2 separate regions of the Homo sapiens genome follow, and region 2 is linked to region 1. Evidence: fine-mapped expression QTL. Tissue or cell type: whole blood. Region 1 holds a variant in brackets; the other region holds the start of a gene. All regions are shown on one strand. Distances are from middle to middle.

What was found. PIP is the estimated chance that this variant, and not a neighbour inherited with it, causes the effect.
Region 2: TRIM47 starts here. The variant in region 1 is fine-mapped to the expression of TRIM47 in whole blood (INTERVAL, PIP 0.96).

Annotation. Positions count from the first base shown.
Region 1 is chr17:75,954,185-75,962,270 of GRCh38, reverse strand. It overlaps ACOX1 (acyl-CoA oxidase 1), which reads left to right. Exons shown (of 14, transcript NM_004035.7): 3 at 1,896-2,056; 4 at 4,705-4,812; 5 at 6,324-6,443; 6 at 6,590-6,705. Among named protein-coding and RNA genes, the nearest start is that of FBF1, 17 kb to the right of the region's middle. The variant A/G (reference allele first, on the strand shown) is at 3,591.
Region 2 is chr17:75,874,879-75,882,953 of GRCh38, reverse strand. It overlaps TRIM47 (tripartite motif containing 47), which reads left to right and starts at 4,373. Exons shown (of 6, transcript NM_033452.3): 1 at 4,373-5,080; 2 at 6,141-6,236; 3 at 6,462-6,692; 4 at 6,855-7,053; 5 at 7,480-7,554; 6 at 7,831-8,075. The coding sequence starts at 4,406. It also overlaps a transcript of TRIM65 not described here. RefSeq lists silencers at 4,189-4,538, 4,669-5,048, 5,059-5,238 and enhancers at 4,083-4,998, 4,999-5,914, 6,725-6,794, 5,915-6,830.

The DNA of each region.
Region 1 (8,086 bases):
GTCACGGAGAGCTTATGCATGAATCTGTAACTTGTCGTTATTATGGTCTTCACTAGAAATTGCATGTCTTTTTTAATTTCTGAAATAAATTATTGGGATGAAGAGCACTGTCAGTTTTTGTATTAAAGTGTTTCAGTAGAGCGTGGCCGAATATTTGACATGATGAATCTGAATGAAATGATCAGAGCTATGTGAGGAATATGGTTCTACGCTGGATGTTTTGTGGACAAAACAGAAAAAAAATCCCAGCCTAGAAGCATTATTGAAATTGCATCGAGGAAAAACTATAATCTGGGGGTCATACTGTCACTCTGAGAGAACTACTATGTTCTGTCTCGCTTTCTCATCAGAGGAAATCCTTGTACCAGTACCACTCAAATTCTCTGTTCTCCGACTCCTGGCTTCAAGCGATTCTGCCTCAGCATCCCAAGTAGCTGGGATTACAGGCACATGCCACCACACCCAGCAAATTCTCCATTCTATACAACTTTTTTTTTTTTTTTTTTTTTTTGAGACAGAGTCTCGCTCTGTTGCCCAGGCTGGAGTGCAGTGGTGTGATCTCGGCTCACTGCAACCACCGCCTCCCAGGTTCTCCTGCCTCAGTCTCCCAAGTAGCTTGGATTACAGGCATGTGCCACCACACCTGGCTGATTTTGTATATTTAGTAGAGATGGGGTCTCACCATGTTGGTCAGGCTGGTCTTGAACTCCTGACCTCAGGTGATCCGCCCACCTTGGCCTCTCAAAGTGCTGGGATTACAGGCATGAGCCACGGTGCCCGGCCTTTTTTTTTTTTTTTTTTTTTTGTATTTTTAGTAGAAACGGGATTTCACTATGTTGGCCAGGCTGGTCTCAAACTCCTGACCTCAAGTGATCCGCCTGCGTCAGCCTCCCAAAGTGCTAGGATTACAGGCATGAGCCACCATGCCTGGCCCTATACAACTTTTCAAATTCTCTCTCTCTTTTTTTTTTTTTTTTTGAGATGGAGTCTCACTGTGTCGCCCAGGCTAGAATGCAGTGGTGTTATCTTAGCTCACTGCAACCTCTGCCTCCTGGGTTGGAGCAATTCTCCTGCCTCAGCCTCCTGAGTAGCTGGGATTACAGGTGTGCACCACCATGCCTGCTTAATTTTTGTATTTTTAGTAGAGACAGGGTTTCGCCATGTTGGCCAGGCTGGTCTTGAACTCCTGACCTCAGGTGATCCACCCACCTCGGCCTCTCAGAGTGCTGAGATTATAGGTGGGAGCCACTGCACCTGGCCAATTCTCTCTTATTTATTTATTTATTTTTTTTGAGACAGAGTCTCACTCTGTCACCCAGGCTGGAATGCAGTGGGCATGATCTCGGCTCACTGCAACCTCCGCCTCCTAGGTTCAAGCGATTTTCCTGCCTCAGGCTCCCAAATAGCTGGGACTACTGGCTGGCGCCACCACGTTCAGCTGATTTTTGTATTTTTAGTAGAGTCAGGGCTTTGCCATGTTGGCCAGGCTGGTCTCGAACTCCTGACTTAAGGTGATCTGACCGCCTTGGCCTCCCAAAGTGCTGAGATTGTAGGCATGATCCACTGCACTGGCCTCTCAAATTTTCTTTATTTCCTTTGATTTAATTCCTGGGCGAGGATCCTCTGCCTTGCACGTGTGGTTTTGTGCTGCATTGGCTTTGGAATCAGTAACCAATCCCTGTCCTCGTACTCCTTGCCGACTCAGGAAAAATGGAAATTAACAAGAGCTATAAAGTAATACAGAAAGGGACAGTGCTCCCATCTATGATTAAGTGCACGCAACTAATTCATACTTAAGGTTTTTTTGTCTCCTTCCCTTGCTCTATTTAAATTGCTGATTCTCTCACACCTGATGACTCTTCTCTCAAATGCCCATCCTTGATATTTCCTCGAAGTTTTGTGCACCGAGGGCGGCCTGAGCCTCTGGATCTTCACTTGGGCATGTTCCTGCCCACCTTGCTTCACCAGGCAACTGCGGAGCAGCAGGAGCGCTTCTTCATGCCCGCCTGGAACTTGGAGATCATTGGCACTTATGCCCAGACAGAGATGGGTCATGGTATGGAGTATTCAGTCTACCTTCTGGGTTGGGCGGGCCCCTGTGAGCTTACCATGTGTGGAGTGCCCACCATGTGCCATCGATGGTGTGTCGATGTTCTATGGTCTGTTTAAATGAGCTCTTTCTGCAGAGTCCAGGTTTTGGTATAAACACTGCTTTGGTGAGTGGGAATTAAAGACCATGATACTGATAAAATGATTGTCCTTTTTATACCATAGTTCCCCTTCAGAGGGTCAAGAATTGCAAATCAGGCCTTATTTACCAAGTGGTTTTTCAATGTTACTGAGGTTGTATAGAATCTGTGTGCATATACAACCCGAAGCTGTTTTTTTCTTCATTACTATCTGATTACCTTTACTACTGATACCTTAATGAGTACAAATTCCAGAAGAAATACAAATAATAGTTTGTGTACTCTTGGATTTGCTTGAGGGAAATGAGTAGCTTATAACTGACGTGTGTGACATTTTGGAGTTATTTGTACTTTGAGTCAATCAGTAGTTCTGCAAGTGACTTGGCTGGAGAGTGAAAAAACCAAGATAAGCCGAACTTGCAGGCATTTGGTTTCAGACTCTGTATCTCCACCTTTCATTGATCTTTCCACCCCCCACCTGCTTTCTTCATGCACCTGGGTGGGCTGGAGGTGGCCGCTGTTCCTCTTTGTATCTTCTCTGAATTGGGTCCGTGTTTGCCATTCATTTGCTTATGGCTTCTCTTTTTCTGCTCTGACGTTTCAGAAAAACTGGTCTAGTGTGTATTTGCCACTTGCTCCTTATTTCTATACAGCTGCTGCTTTTTATTTGGTGTTGAATAGTATTTTACAGGATTTTCATGAGACTCCAAGTGGAATACTATTTGTTTCAGTTGTGCTTTTGAAAACATTTTGTCCTTATCTGTTCTGTTTAATGTTATCTGCTTTTCTGTAAAAGCTGCTTCTTTGATGAAAGATGTCTGTGTCTGATTTGTTGACTCCCACTCGGGAAAGTTGTGGATTGCACATAAGTTGGTTATTCAACTTGGAAGCTTCTAAATGTTTCAAAGTGTGTTTAATGAGGTCTAAGCGTTATGAAAGCAGATTGGTAAAAGGTTCCCAACGTTTGCTTTAGTACAGTATTTTTGTAGAGACTGCCACCTAGAACATTTTTCTATGACTCTTTTCAAATAATTTTGATATATTTGTGTTAAGATTTAAAACATAAGATCCTGTCTATCCCAGTACACATAAGAAACTGGAAACTCTTCCTTGCCACATTAATGAACCAGCAGGACTAAGTTAGGCCTGCCATTGGAAATCTCTAGGGTCAACTGAGACCTTATTATTGGACCTTTAGGAATTTTTAAAAGTCACATTTCAGGTCATTTCCCCAATAACAGTTATACTTTTATACTTTTTTTTTTTTTTTTTTTGAGACGGAGTCGTGCTCTGTCGCCCAGGCTGGAGTGCAGTGGCGCGATCTCAGCTCACTGCAAGCTCCACCTTCCGGGTTCACGCCATTCTCCTGCCTCAGCCTCCCGAGTAGCTGGGACTACAGGC[A/G]CCCACCACCATGCCCAGCTAATTTTTTGTATTTTTAGTAGAGACGGGGTTTCGCCGTGTTAACCAGGATGGTCTCGATCTCCTGACTTTGTGATCCGCCCGCCTTGGCCCCCCAAAGTGCTGGGATTACAGGCGTGAGCCACCGTGCCCAGCTTTAATTTTTTTGTTGTTTTTTTAGTAGAGACGGGGTTTCACCACTTTAGCCAGGATGGTCTCAATCTCCTGACCTCGTGATCCCCCCACCTCGGCCTCCCAAAGTGCTGGGATTACAGGCTTGAGCCACTGTGCCTGGCCTTTTTCTTTTTCTTTTTCTTTTTTTTTTTTTTTTGAGATGGAGTCTTGCTCTGCCACCCAGGCTGGAGTGCGGTGGCACAATCTTGGCTCACTGCAACCTCCACCTCCCGGGTTCAAGCAATTCTCCTGCCTCAGCCTCCTTAGTAGCTGGGACTACAGGCGCATGCCACAATGCCTGGCTAATTTTTTGTATTTTTAGTAGAGACGGGTTTCACCATGTTAGCCAGGATGGACTCGATCTCCTGACCTCGTGATCCACCCGCCTCGGCCTCCTAAAGTGCTGGGATTACAGGCATGAGCCACCACGCACAGCCATACATTTTTAATTTATACGAATTTTGGCTGAAATGTCTTCCTCTCACATGTTATCTCATTCTTCTCATTAGTACAGAATTCAAGAATGTTGAATTGGTGTGGTTAACACAATACATATGACTTGAAATTGGCATACTTGCAACTCAGAGATGGGTTTAAAAAGACAGTTAACATCCCTGTTAAATTCATATATTGTGATCTTAAAAATGTGATTCTAAGTTGCCTTTATATTTTCTTTCAGTTGCTGTAAATAAATGTAACAAATCAAATACAGAAATGGAACATGCATGACACTTAGATTTTCAACTTAATAGGAAACCATCAGATAGTGTGGGAAATTCAGTGTCTTGGTTATCAACCAGTTGTAGCTCATCTACAGGTGTTTTTTGTTAGATTTTGTTTTTCTCTGAGATATGAGAGTTTAAAGGACTGTGCAGGAAATTTTTCCTTGTGCCTATTTTTTTCCCCATCTCTTAACTGAAGTCAATGTAATTTATCTCCTTAGGAACTCACCTTCGAGGCTTGGAAACCACAGCCACGTATGACCCTGAAACCCAGGAGTTCATTCTCAACAGTCCTACTGTGACCTCCATTAAATGGTGGCCTGGTGGGCGTAAGTGAATTTTTCAGCATTTATTGGATGTTTTGAAGGTTTGTCATGAGATTTTGCTTAGAATGTAGAGCTTTTATGATAATGTCGGCCAGACTTGGTGGTGAAATCCTAACACTTTGGGAGGCTGAGGTGGGCAGATCACTTGAGGTCAGGAATTCAAGACCAGCCTGGTTAATATGCTGAAACCCCATCTCTACTAAAAATACAAAAATTAGCCGGGTGTGGTGGCGCACACCTGTAGTCCCAGCTACTTGGGAGGCTGAGGCAGGAGAATCACTTGAACCCGGGAAGGTTGCAATGAGCCAAGATTGCACCATTGCACTCCAGCCTGGGCATCACAGCAAGACTTTGTCTCAAAAACAACCCAACAAACAAATATATGTGTGTGTGGTGTGTGTACATAGAGGGGTGTGTGTGTGTGTATATAGACAGAGAGAGGTGTGTGTGTGTATATATATATATATATATATATATATATATATATATAGAGAGAGAGAGAGAGAGAGAGAGAGAGAGAGAGAGAGAGAGAGAGAGAGAGAGAGAGAGAGGAAAGCCAGGCATAGCGGCACATACCTATAGACCTATAGTCCTGGCTACTCAGGAGGCTGAGGTGGGAGGACCACTTGAGCCCAAGAGTTCAAGCCTGCAGTGAGCTACTATCTGTGATCATGCCACTGCACTCCAGCCTGGGTGACAGAGTGAAACCCTGTCTCTTAAAAAAAAAAAAGAAAAAAATTTAAATAGTTTTAACACAAACTTTTTTTTTTTTTTGAGATGGAGTCTCACTGTGTCACCCAGGTTGGAGTACAGTGGTGTGATCTCCGCTCACTGCAACCTCCACCTTCTGGGTTCAAGCGATTCTCCTGCCTCAGCCTCCTGAGTAGCTGGGACTACAGGAGCGTGCCACCACACCCAACTAATTTTTGTATTTTTAGTAGAGATGGGATTTCATCATGTTGGCCAGGCTGGTCTCAAACTCCTGACCTCTGGTCTGCCCGCCTCGGCCTCCCAAAGTGCTGGAATTACAGGCGCGAGCCACCGTGCCCGGCTGACCCGAAACTTTTATATCTTCTTATTCCATTCTGAGTTATTATCTTGGAATATATATTTCCAATACAGTTAGTGGTTGAAGGATTTTGTTATTCACATTATATATTTTATTTATTTATAATTTATATGTAAGAAGCCACATGTAGCTAGTGATTACTGTTTTGGACAGCACTGCCTTAAGGGATAACAAGGAAGTAGTTTAAATTAATATTCTTATTTTTATCCTAAAATTTTCTCTACGTAAATGTATGAGAAATAAGTAGAAAAGAAAGTAATAACTATTAGCTTAAGGGAATTTCTTTCTGAAAGCTAGGTGTGATGCTGTCAGCAGAAAGGCTTTCTGGACACATACTATTGGTTTAGTCTAGTGTTAGATTTAACATATTCTTTCTTCTTTTTTCTACCCTTTAAAAATGTATGAACGTTTGCCCACCCCTCCCTTGTTCTCTTTGATATTACAGTTGGAAAGACTTCAAATCATGCAATAGTTCTTGCCCAGCTCATCACTAAGGGGAAATGCTATGGATTACATGCCTTTATCGTACCTATTCGTGAAATCGGGACCCATAAGCCTTTGCCAGGTAAGAACTGTTCATCTGATGTTGAGATGAAAATGAAACTGAGCACTTTCTTCTGCAAAAGGTAGAATGCCCAACTGAAGAGGCGGAGCAAAAGCCAGAAATTCCAGAGCATAAACATCTCGTGACTGTCCTTTCATCTGTGGTAGGAATTACCGTTGGTGACATCGGCCCCAAATTTGGTTATGATGAGATAGACAATGGCTACCTCAAAATGGACAACCATCGTATTCCCAGAGAAAACATGCTGATGAAGTATGCCCAGGTATGTTTTGATAGAAAATAAAGCAGAGGCATCAAACAGTGGAGTTGAGTGGCTGTTACTCACAATAGGGTTAGAATGGTCTGTTCTTTTAGAAGGTAATAACAGCAGGGCACACTGGCATATTCCTGTTATCCCAGCACTTTGGGAGGCTGAGTGCGTGGATGACTTGAGCCCAGGAGCTCAAGATCAGTCTGGGCAACATAGTGAGAACCCATCTCTACAAAAAGTAAAAAAATCTAGCTGGGTATGGTGGCACACGTGTGTAGTCCCAGCTACTTGGGAGACTGGGGTGGGAGGATCACTTGAGCCTGGGAGGCCGAGGCTACAGTGAGCTGTGATTATGCCACCGTACTCCAGCCTAGATGACAGTGAGACCTTGTCTCAAAAAAAAAAAGGAGGCTGGGCGCAGTGGCTCACACCTGTAATTCCAGCACTTTTGGGAGGCTGAGGCGGGAAGATCATGAGGTCAAGAGATGGAGACCATCCTGGCCAACATGGTGAAACCCCATCTCTACTAAAAATACCAAAAAATTAGCTGGGCGTGGTGGTGCGCACCTGTAGTCCCAGCTACTCAGGAGGCTGAGGCAGGAGAATAGCTTGAACCCGGGAGGCGGAGGTTGCAGTGAGCAGAGATCATGACACTGCACTCCAGCTTGGCAACAGAGTGAGACTCCGTCTCATAAAAGGAGGGAATAAGGCTGGGCGCGGTGGCTCATGCCTGTAGTCCCAGCACTTTGGGAGGCCAAGGAGGATGGATCATAAGGTCAGGAATTCAAGACCAGCCTGACCAATATGGTGAAAACCTGTCTCTACTAAAAATACAAAGATTAGCCGGGTGTGATGGCACACGCCTGTAATCTCAGCTACTCAGGAGGCTGAGGCAGGAGAATCGCTTGAACCCAGGAGGCAGAGGTTGCAGTAAGTCGAGATCACACCACTGCACTCCAGCCTAGGCAATACAGCGAGACTCTGTCTCAAAAAAAAAAAAAAAAAAAAAGGAGCTAATAATGCATTTTTCCTTCTGATGCCCCTTTTTTTTTTTTTTGAGAGAGAGAGTCTCTGTCACCCATGCTGGAGTGCAGTGGCGTGATCTTGGCTCACTGCAACCTCCGCCTCCTGGGTTCAAGCGATTCTCCTGCCTCAGCCTCCCAAGTAGCTGGGATTACAGGCATGCGCCACCACACCCAGCTAATTGTTTTGTATTTTTAGTAGAGGTGGGGTTTCACCCTGTTGGCCAGGCTGGTCTCAAACTCCTGACCTCAGGGGACCCTCTTGCCTCGGCCTCCCAAAGTGCTAGGATTACAGGCATGAGCCACCGCACCCAGCATTTTTTGGTTTTTTTTTTTTTTTGAGACAGAGTCTTGCTCTGTCACCCAGGCTG
Region 2 (8,075 bases), 79 kb after region 1:
CAGGCTGGTCTCAAACTCCTGAGCTCAAGTCCTCGTGCCTTGGCTCCCAAAGTCCCAGGATTATAGGCGTGAACCACCACACCCAGCCACTTGTTTTTGTTTGATTTTTTTCCTTTTTTTCTCAAGCACTACTACTACAGCCAGACAGTCATATGTGAGATTTATAATTATTCAAGCTGCAACCTCTTGAGCTTAAATTCTGCTTCCTCTGCAGGACAAGTTATGTGACCTCTGGCAAGACATGGTACCTATCGGAATTCCAGTTGCCATCCTTTAGGATAGGGTCCTTGGACAGACAGAATGAGGGCAGGTGTGAACATGCTGAGCTCACATGGTGCCAGTTACCCTTGCCCTTGACTCTTAGACAATTCATTTTGAAGTGAACTAATACACTAGGCAAACAACTTCAAAACTCTGGAAATGGAAATGAAATAGCAAGATGCCAGGCTGGGCGCGGTGGCTCACGTCTGTAATCCCAGCACTTTGGGAGGCCGAGGCAGGCAGATCACCTGAGGTCAGGGGTTTGAGACCAGCCTGGCCAACATGGTGAAACCCCATCGCCACTAAAAAATACAAAATTTAGCCGAGCGTGGTGATGCATGCCTGTAATCCCAGCTACTGGGGAGGCTGAAGCAGGAGAATCGCTTGAACCCAGAAGGTGGAGGTTGCAGTGAGATGAGATTGCGCCACTGAACTCCAGCCTGGGCGACAGAGCGAGACTCCATTTGAAAAAAAAAGAAAAGAAGTAGCAAGATGCCACCACACTGACAAACCGCATCTCTGTGCTTTCCTCCTGGGGAGCAGATCTTTTCAAGCAGGGAGGACAGCAGGCTGTGGGTGGGGAGCAGAGGGTTGGCTGGGACCCAACCGGAAAGGCACCCCCTCCTTCCAGAACCAGGCAGGTTTGTGGCCTCACCAAACCCAGGCAGCCTGGGCACCAAAGCCACGGAGCAGGGTGGCACTGATGCCTGGGCCTCCCAACCGCTCCTGGGGCTTGGCAAACAAGTGATAGTCCTGATCAAGTGCTCTAGTGCTCTTGGTGGAAACCAATGTATGGAACTCATTACCCACCCTCCTGCCAAATCAGACACACCCAGGCCGGCTCCCTCTGCTACTCCCTCTGCCCGGAAGGTCTTTTCCCACCCCAGTCTCTGCCCGCCTGAGTCCTGGCAGTCTGTGAAAGCCCAGCTCAAATGCCACTTCCACAGTTCCCCAGCCTTTCCCATGGAGCCCCCAGGAGCAGATTGCACCGCTCTTTTGGCACTTGGAGTTGCAACAGTCTGAATGTGTGTGTACCCTCAGAATTGATGTGTTGAGATCCTGACCCCTAAGGTGATGGTCCTAGGAGGTGGGGTCTTCAGGTGGGCGGAGCCTCATTCATGGCATGAGTGCCCTTGTCCAAGGGGCCCCAAAGGCTCTCTGGCTGTCTCTTGGCCATGTGAGGACACAGTGGGAAGGCAGCCATCTACAACCCAGGAAGCAGCTCTCACTGGAACCCTGACTGTGCTGTCACCGTGATCGCAGACTTCCAGCCTCCAGAACTGTGAGGAGTGTCTGTTGTGTATAAGCCACCCAGTCTCTGGTGTTCTGGGATAGCAGCCCAGACACACTAAGACAGGGGTTCCTGAGTGCCTGGAGAGCCAGCTCCCTCCCCAAGAGGCTGGGTCCCTCCTTCTTTCTTTCTTCTTTTCTTTTCTTTTTTTTTTTTTTTTTTTTTTGAGATGGAGTCTCGCTGTGTCACCGAGGCTGGAGAGTACAGTGGCACAACCTCTGCCTCCTTGGTTCAAGCGATTCTCCTGCCTCAGACTCCCGAGTAGCTGGGAATACAAGTGTGTGCACCACCACGCCCGGCTAATTTTTTTGTATTTTTAGTAGAGATGGGGTTTCGCCATGTTAACCAGGCTGGTCTGGAACTCGTGACCTCAAGTGATCCGCCCGCCTCAGCCTCCCAAAGTCCTGGGATTCCAGGCGTGAGCCACCACACCCGGCACATTTGTGCTCTTTTGCTTGTGTTTTCTCCTCTTTAGCTCTGAACTCATGAAGTGCCTTCTGAACATTTCTAGTCTGGTCTCAGGGGACCTGAGGGTATTTTCCCACCCCCCAAGCCTAGAGAGCTGGGGAAACAGAGGCAGGAATGCAGACCCGGTGGGAGAGGTGGACAAGGGTTTGGGTGTGGGACAAGCAGCAGTGTGTGCTGAGGTTTAGGGAAGGGCCAGGGTCCTGGAACACAGAGAGGGCCAGGAACACCGGGGGACATGCATGACCTCTAGCACATTTGGGCCTGGGCCTCTCTCCAACATTTCCTTACTTATGCACTGTTATAGGTTGAATCCTGTTCCCTGAAAAAGACGTATTCGGATCCTAACCCCCAGGACCTGTGGCTGTGACCTTATTTGGAAATAGAGTATTTTCAGATGTGACTGAGTTAAGATGAGGGCATACTGGAGTAGAGCGTGCCCTAATCCAACAACTGGTGTCCTGATAAGAGGAAATGGGCACCGGGCACAGTGGCTCACGCCTGTAATCCTAGCACTTTGGGAGGCTGAGGCAGGCAGATTACTCGAGCCCAGCAGTTTGAGTGGGCAACAGAGCAAGACTCCCTAAAAAAAAAAAAAAAAAGGACATTTGAACACAGACACAGAGAAAAGGCAAATGACAACAGAGACTGATATTAGAGCGCATCTTACAGCTACAAGCCAAGGAACGCCAAGAATTGCCAGCCAGTACCAGAAGCTGGGACAGACGCCCAGGACAGAGTCTCCCTCAGATCCTGCAGAAGGAAGCCACGCTGCAGCACCTTACTGAAACACAGCATTTCTTTCTATTCCAAATGGAGAGAATACACCAGAGTGGTATGAGCAGTTACCTGTGACTTTGTCACTAACCAAAATTACAGATATCTCTGGGTGCGGTGGCTCATGTCTGTAATCCCAGCACTTTGGGAGGCCGAGGCGGGTGGATCACCTGAAGTCAGCAGTTCGAGACCAGCTTGGCCAACATGGTGAAACCCCGTCTCTACTAAAAATACAAAAATTAGCCAAATGTGGTGGCGGGCGCCTGTAATCCCAGCTACTCAAGAGTCCGAGGAGGGAGAATCGCTTGAACCCAGGAGACAGAGGTTGCAGTGAGCTGAGATTGCGCCACTGCACTCCAGCCTGGGCGACAAGAGCGAAACTCCATCTAAAAAAATAAAAATAAAAAAACATTATTTGGAATTTTCAATGCGAAATATGTCTGTTCTCCCCAGCTTGTTAATTTATTATTTATTTATATCGGCATGGACTCATAGATGTTTATTTTACACTTTGGGTTATAATCAGTGCTACTTTACTTATTTTGTTGTCATTCTGGTGTAGTGTTTTAACTTAACATTATTGAGATATAACTCATACAATAAAACGCACCACTTTAAGTGCATAATTAGATGAGCTTTAAATACTTCCAGTTGGGGAACCCCCAACCCCACCACAGGTGTCCCCAGTGTCCAGGGGCCAGAACTACATTCCTCAGACAAGGGACTTAGGGAATGACGTCAACTTCCCATTTCAGGTCTAGAAAAGTCCAAGTTCCCTACTTGGGGTAAAGAGTCGCTAAAGGAGCTGGGCGCTGTGGCTCACGCCTGTAATCCCAGCACTTTGGGAGGCCGAGGCAGGTGGATCACCTGAGGTCACGAGTTCAAGACCAGCCTGGACAAGGTGAAACTCCGTCTCTACAAAAAAATACAAAAATTTGCCTGGTGTGGTGGCAAGCGCCTATAATTCCAGCTACTTGGGAGGCTAAGGCAGGAGAATCACTTGAATCCGGGAGGCGGAGGTTGCAGTGAGCCGAGATAGCGCCCCTGCACTCCAGCCTGGGCGACAAGAGAGGAACTCTGTCTCAAAAAAAAAAAAAAAAAGAGTCGCTAAGGGGCAAAAACATATGTACATCAGCAGTTATTTTTCTCTGCAGTCAGCAGCTCAGGAACTTTGCTAAGGGTGCCAGGGAGGGGTCGAGCGCAAAGGTGCAGGCATGACACAGCTAGACGCGCCCAGCCCCTGCGGAGCGCTGGCCTGGCCCAGAAGGACCAGAGGGATGGAGGCTGAGTCCTTCCCATTCCTTCCACTGTACCTCTCGCGTTCTCCGCCCGCGCTCACTCAGTTTCACACCCTTTCAGCAGCGCCCTTCCTTAGGACCACGCGGACTCCCCTGGGGGTCGCGCGGGCTCGGAGGCCTCCCTGCGTTGTCTGGGCGGGGACTGGGAGTCCGCGGGCCCGCAGGCGGGCGGTGCTGCGGGGCGGGCCGAGCTGGGGGCGGGCGGGGGCCGGAGCCCTGGCCTAGGTCCCAGGGGGAGGTGCCGCGGCGCGAACGGCCCGGGTCCCTCCCAGGCCGGAGCACAATCGGCGGCGCCCTGGGCGGCCGCGGAGTCATGGACGGCAGTGGACCCTTCAGCTGCCCCATCTGCCTAGAGCCACTCCGGGAGCCGGTGACGCTGCCCTGCGGCCACAACTTCTGTCTCGCCTGCCTGGGCGCGCTCTGGCCGCATCGTGGCGCGAGTGGAGCCGGCGGACCCGGAGGCGCGGCCCGCTGCCCGCTGTGCCAGGAGCCCTTCCCCGACGGCCTTCAGCTCCGCAAGAACCACACGCTGTCCGAGCTGCTGCAGCTCCGCCAGGGCTCGGGCCCCGGGTCCGGCCCCGGCCCGGCCCCTGCCCTGGCCCCGGAGCCCTCGGCACCCAGCGCGCTGCCCAGTGTCCCGGAGCCGTCGGCCCCCTGCGCTCCCGAGCCGTGGCCCGCGGGCGAAGAGCCAGTGCGCTGCGACGCGTGCCCCGAGGGCGCGGCCCTGCCCGCCGCGCTGTCCTGCCTCTCCTGCCTCGCCTCCTTTTGCCCCGCGCACCTGGGCCCGCACGAGCGCAGCCCCGCCCTCCGCGGACACCGCCTGGTGCCGCCGCTGCGCCGGCTAGAGGAGAGCCTGTGCCCGCGCCACCTACGGCCGCTCGAGCGCTACTGCCGCGCGGAGCGCGTGTGTCTGTGCGAGGCCTGCGCCGCACAGGAGCACCGCGGCCACGAGCTGGTGCCGCTGGAGCAGGAGCGCGCGCTTCAGGAGGTGGGCTCCGGGGGCACACTCGGGTGAGCCGGGGCTGGTGACCGACCGCGCGCGAGCGGGCCGAGGACCTTGGACCCCCCAGTCTTCCCGGGTTGGGTCTTAATCTCCTCCTCTAACCTGAGGATCTTTGCGGTCCCTTCCAGCCTTGACAAGGTCATCTGCTGGCGGTGATGGAGATGGGAAGGGAGGAAGGAGGGACGTGAGAACAGGACAAGGACGCGAAGAGCGGGCAGGGGACCTGAAGCCGGGCCGGGGTCTATGGGGGTGTAGGCGGGAGGGAGCCGGGTTAGGCCCGCGGGGTTCCGGTAGCGTGGCTGCTGCTCCCGCCCGGAGGGTCACGCCGGTCTCAGCTCAGATTTGCCCTGGGCTGAGGCAGCAGCTTTCGATGGGTGTGGCAGGCGGCAGGAGGGCGGCAGAGGGCGACCGGGCACACAGATTCTCTGTCCAGCTGTTCCGGGGGCCAGTGGTGGGAGCATGTGAGCCGCGGCCTCTACCTCCCGCCCCCAGTTTCCTTTGGCCTCCAGCCCGGTCTTGGCGCCTCTGGCCAAGGGATTTTCCGTTTCTCCTGCCTGGAGCAGTGACTCATAAGACCTAGGGGATTTGCCCGGAATCCCCTTTTTTCCAGGCCTGGACTGTGGATGCAGGCTCTTTGGGAACAGTGATCCTCAGGACAGCTTAATGCCTCCTTGTGCAGTCACCCCTCCGCCGCCCACCTCCCAACCTAACTGGCTTACTCTCTGCCTCTTCCCCGCCGGAGGAAGTTCTCAAATTCATCTGAGCAACACTGAGACCAGCGGACGGCCCTGTACTAGGCCTCCTGTCAGAGACCCGAGGCAGACACCCAGTCAGCCTGCACGCCCCCCAGGCGTTCAGGAAAGGCACCAGCCTGGGCTGCAGGCACCTCTGGCATATTATGGGACATCGTGGCCACTCCAGTCCCACCTGATGCACAGATACCACTCCCCAGTCACCCCCTTCTCTCCCCTGGCAAGGCCTGGGACCCGAGTGTAGGGCTGTGGCCTCTGCCAGACCTCACACTCATGGAGGGTGTTGTCCACAGGCTGAGCAGTCCAAAGTCCTGAGCGCCGTGGAGGACCGCATGGACGAGCTGGGTGCTGGCATTGCACAGTCCAGGCGCACAGTGGCCCTCATCAAGGTCAAACACCCCTCCCTCAGCATGGAACAATCCACTCCAAACAAACCATGCCCATACCTACTGAGCACAAGTGTCCCCTGACCTGGCCCAGATCCAGGACAGGCTCAGTCTGGCCCCTCTGTCCCCTCAAGAGGGCCGGTGGGAAGCCGGGGTCAGGGAAGGAGGGGGGTACAGTCCGGGACGGTTCTTTGCCCTCATTGCCCCCTCTACTGTCGTCCTGTGCAGAGTGCAGCCGTAGCAGAGCGGGAGAGGGTGAGCCGGCTGTTTGCAGATGCTGCGGCCGCCCTGCAGGGCTTCCAGACCCAGGTGCTGGGCTTCATCGAGGAGGGGGAAGCTGCCATGCTAGGCCGCTCCCAGGGTGACCTGCGGCGACAGGAGGAACAGCGCAGCCGCCTGAGCCGAGCCCGCCAGAATCTCAGCCAGGTCCCTGAAGCTGACTCAGTCAGCTTCCTGCAGGTGAAGGCCGCTCTGGGGGCCACGGAAGGAACAGAAGCTGGGACAGGTGGGGTGGAGGGAGGAGGAGGCAGTGGGTGCATGACTTCCTGGCAGAGCTGCCTCCACCCCCAGCAAGGAGGAGCCATGGCCAGCAGCACTTTAATGGGCATTTGTCTGGCACAGGAGCTGCTGGCACTAAGGCTGGCCCTGGAGGATGGGTGTGGCCCTGGGCCTGGACCCCCGAGGGAGCTCAGCTTCACCAAATCATCCCAAGCTGTCCGTGCAGTGAGAGACATGCTGGCCGTGGCCTGCGTCAACCAGTGGGAGCAGCTGAGGGGGCCGGGTGGCAACGAGGATGGGCCACAGAAGCTGGACTCGGAAGGTGGGCACCGCCCCACGCCCCCCCGATGACTCACCCTCTGCCAGCCTCTCGCACAGGCCCCCAGGCCTGGCGCCCATCCAGAAGTGGAGGAGGAAAATTGTGCCTGGCACAGGGAGGAGCCCAAATCCTGCCAGTGACTAGAGCTGCCACCCTGTGGGGATCAATCAGCCCCTTGGACCTGGGGTAGAGGGGGCTTCTCCTAGCCCACCCTCTAGCTCCAGAGGGCTGTGGCCCGGGAAGCACATGGGGCAAGAGGCAGAACACAGGCAACGGGCATGTGTGTGAGCACAGCGTGCCACATCTGGGTGGTGCTTGCTCCCTGGTGGCTCTGGACTCTGGGAGGAAGTGAAGGGGGTAGGGATTGTAGTCACAGGTTCAGAGGGGGGCAGTCTGGGGGCGTTCTCACCACTGTCTCCTCTTCTACAGCTGATGCTGAGCCCCAAGACCTCGAGAGTACGAACCTCTTGGAGAGTGAAGCTCCCAGGGACTATTTCCTCAAGTGTAAGTGGACGCCCGTGCCCCCTCCACTCACACTGGGCCCTCCCAGGGCTGCTGGGCTGGTCCCAGCAGGGCCCTGGCACACAAGGGTTAGGATTCCTCTCCCCAGTTTGTGGGGAGAGCTAGGGCAGCTCCTGGGGTGGTCCCCGGCGGGGCTGGGTTGTGCCGGTTGGAAAGCAGGGGAGAGGCTGTGTTTTGGGGGGGTGGGTACTTGGGGAGGGGCCGTGCCCTCTGAGCCTGGCCCTGAGCCCTGCCTCTCTCTTCTGTCCACGGGATCAGTTGCCTATATTGTGGATTTGGACAGCGACACAGCAGACAAGTTCCTGCAGCTGTTTGGAACCAAAGGTGTCAAGAGGGTGCTGTGTCCTATCAACTACCCCTTGTCGCCCACCCGCTTCACCCATTGTGAGCAGGTGCTGGGCGAGGGTGCCCTGGACCGAGGCACCTACTACTGGGAGGTGGAGATTATCGAGGGCTGGGTCAGCATGGGGGTCATGGCCGAAGACTTCTCCCCACAAGAGCCC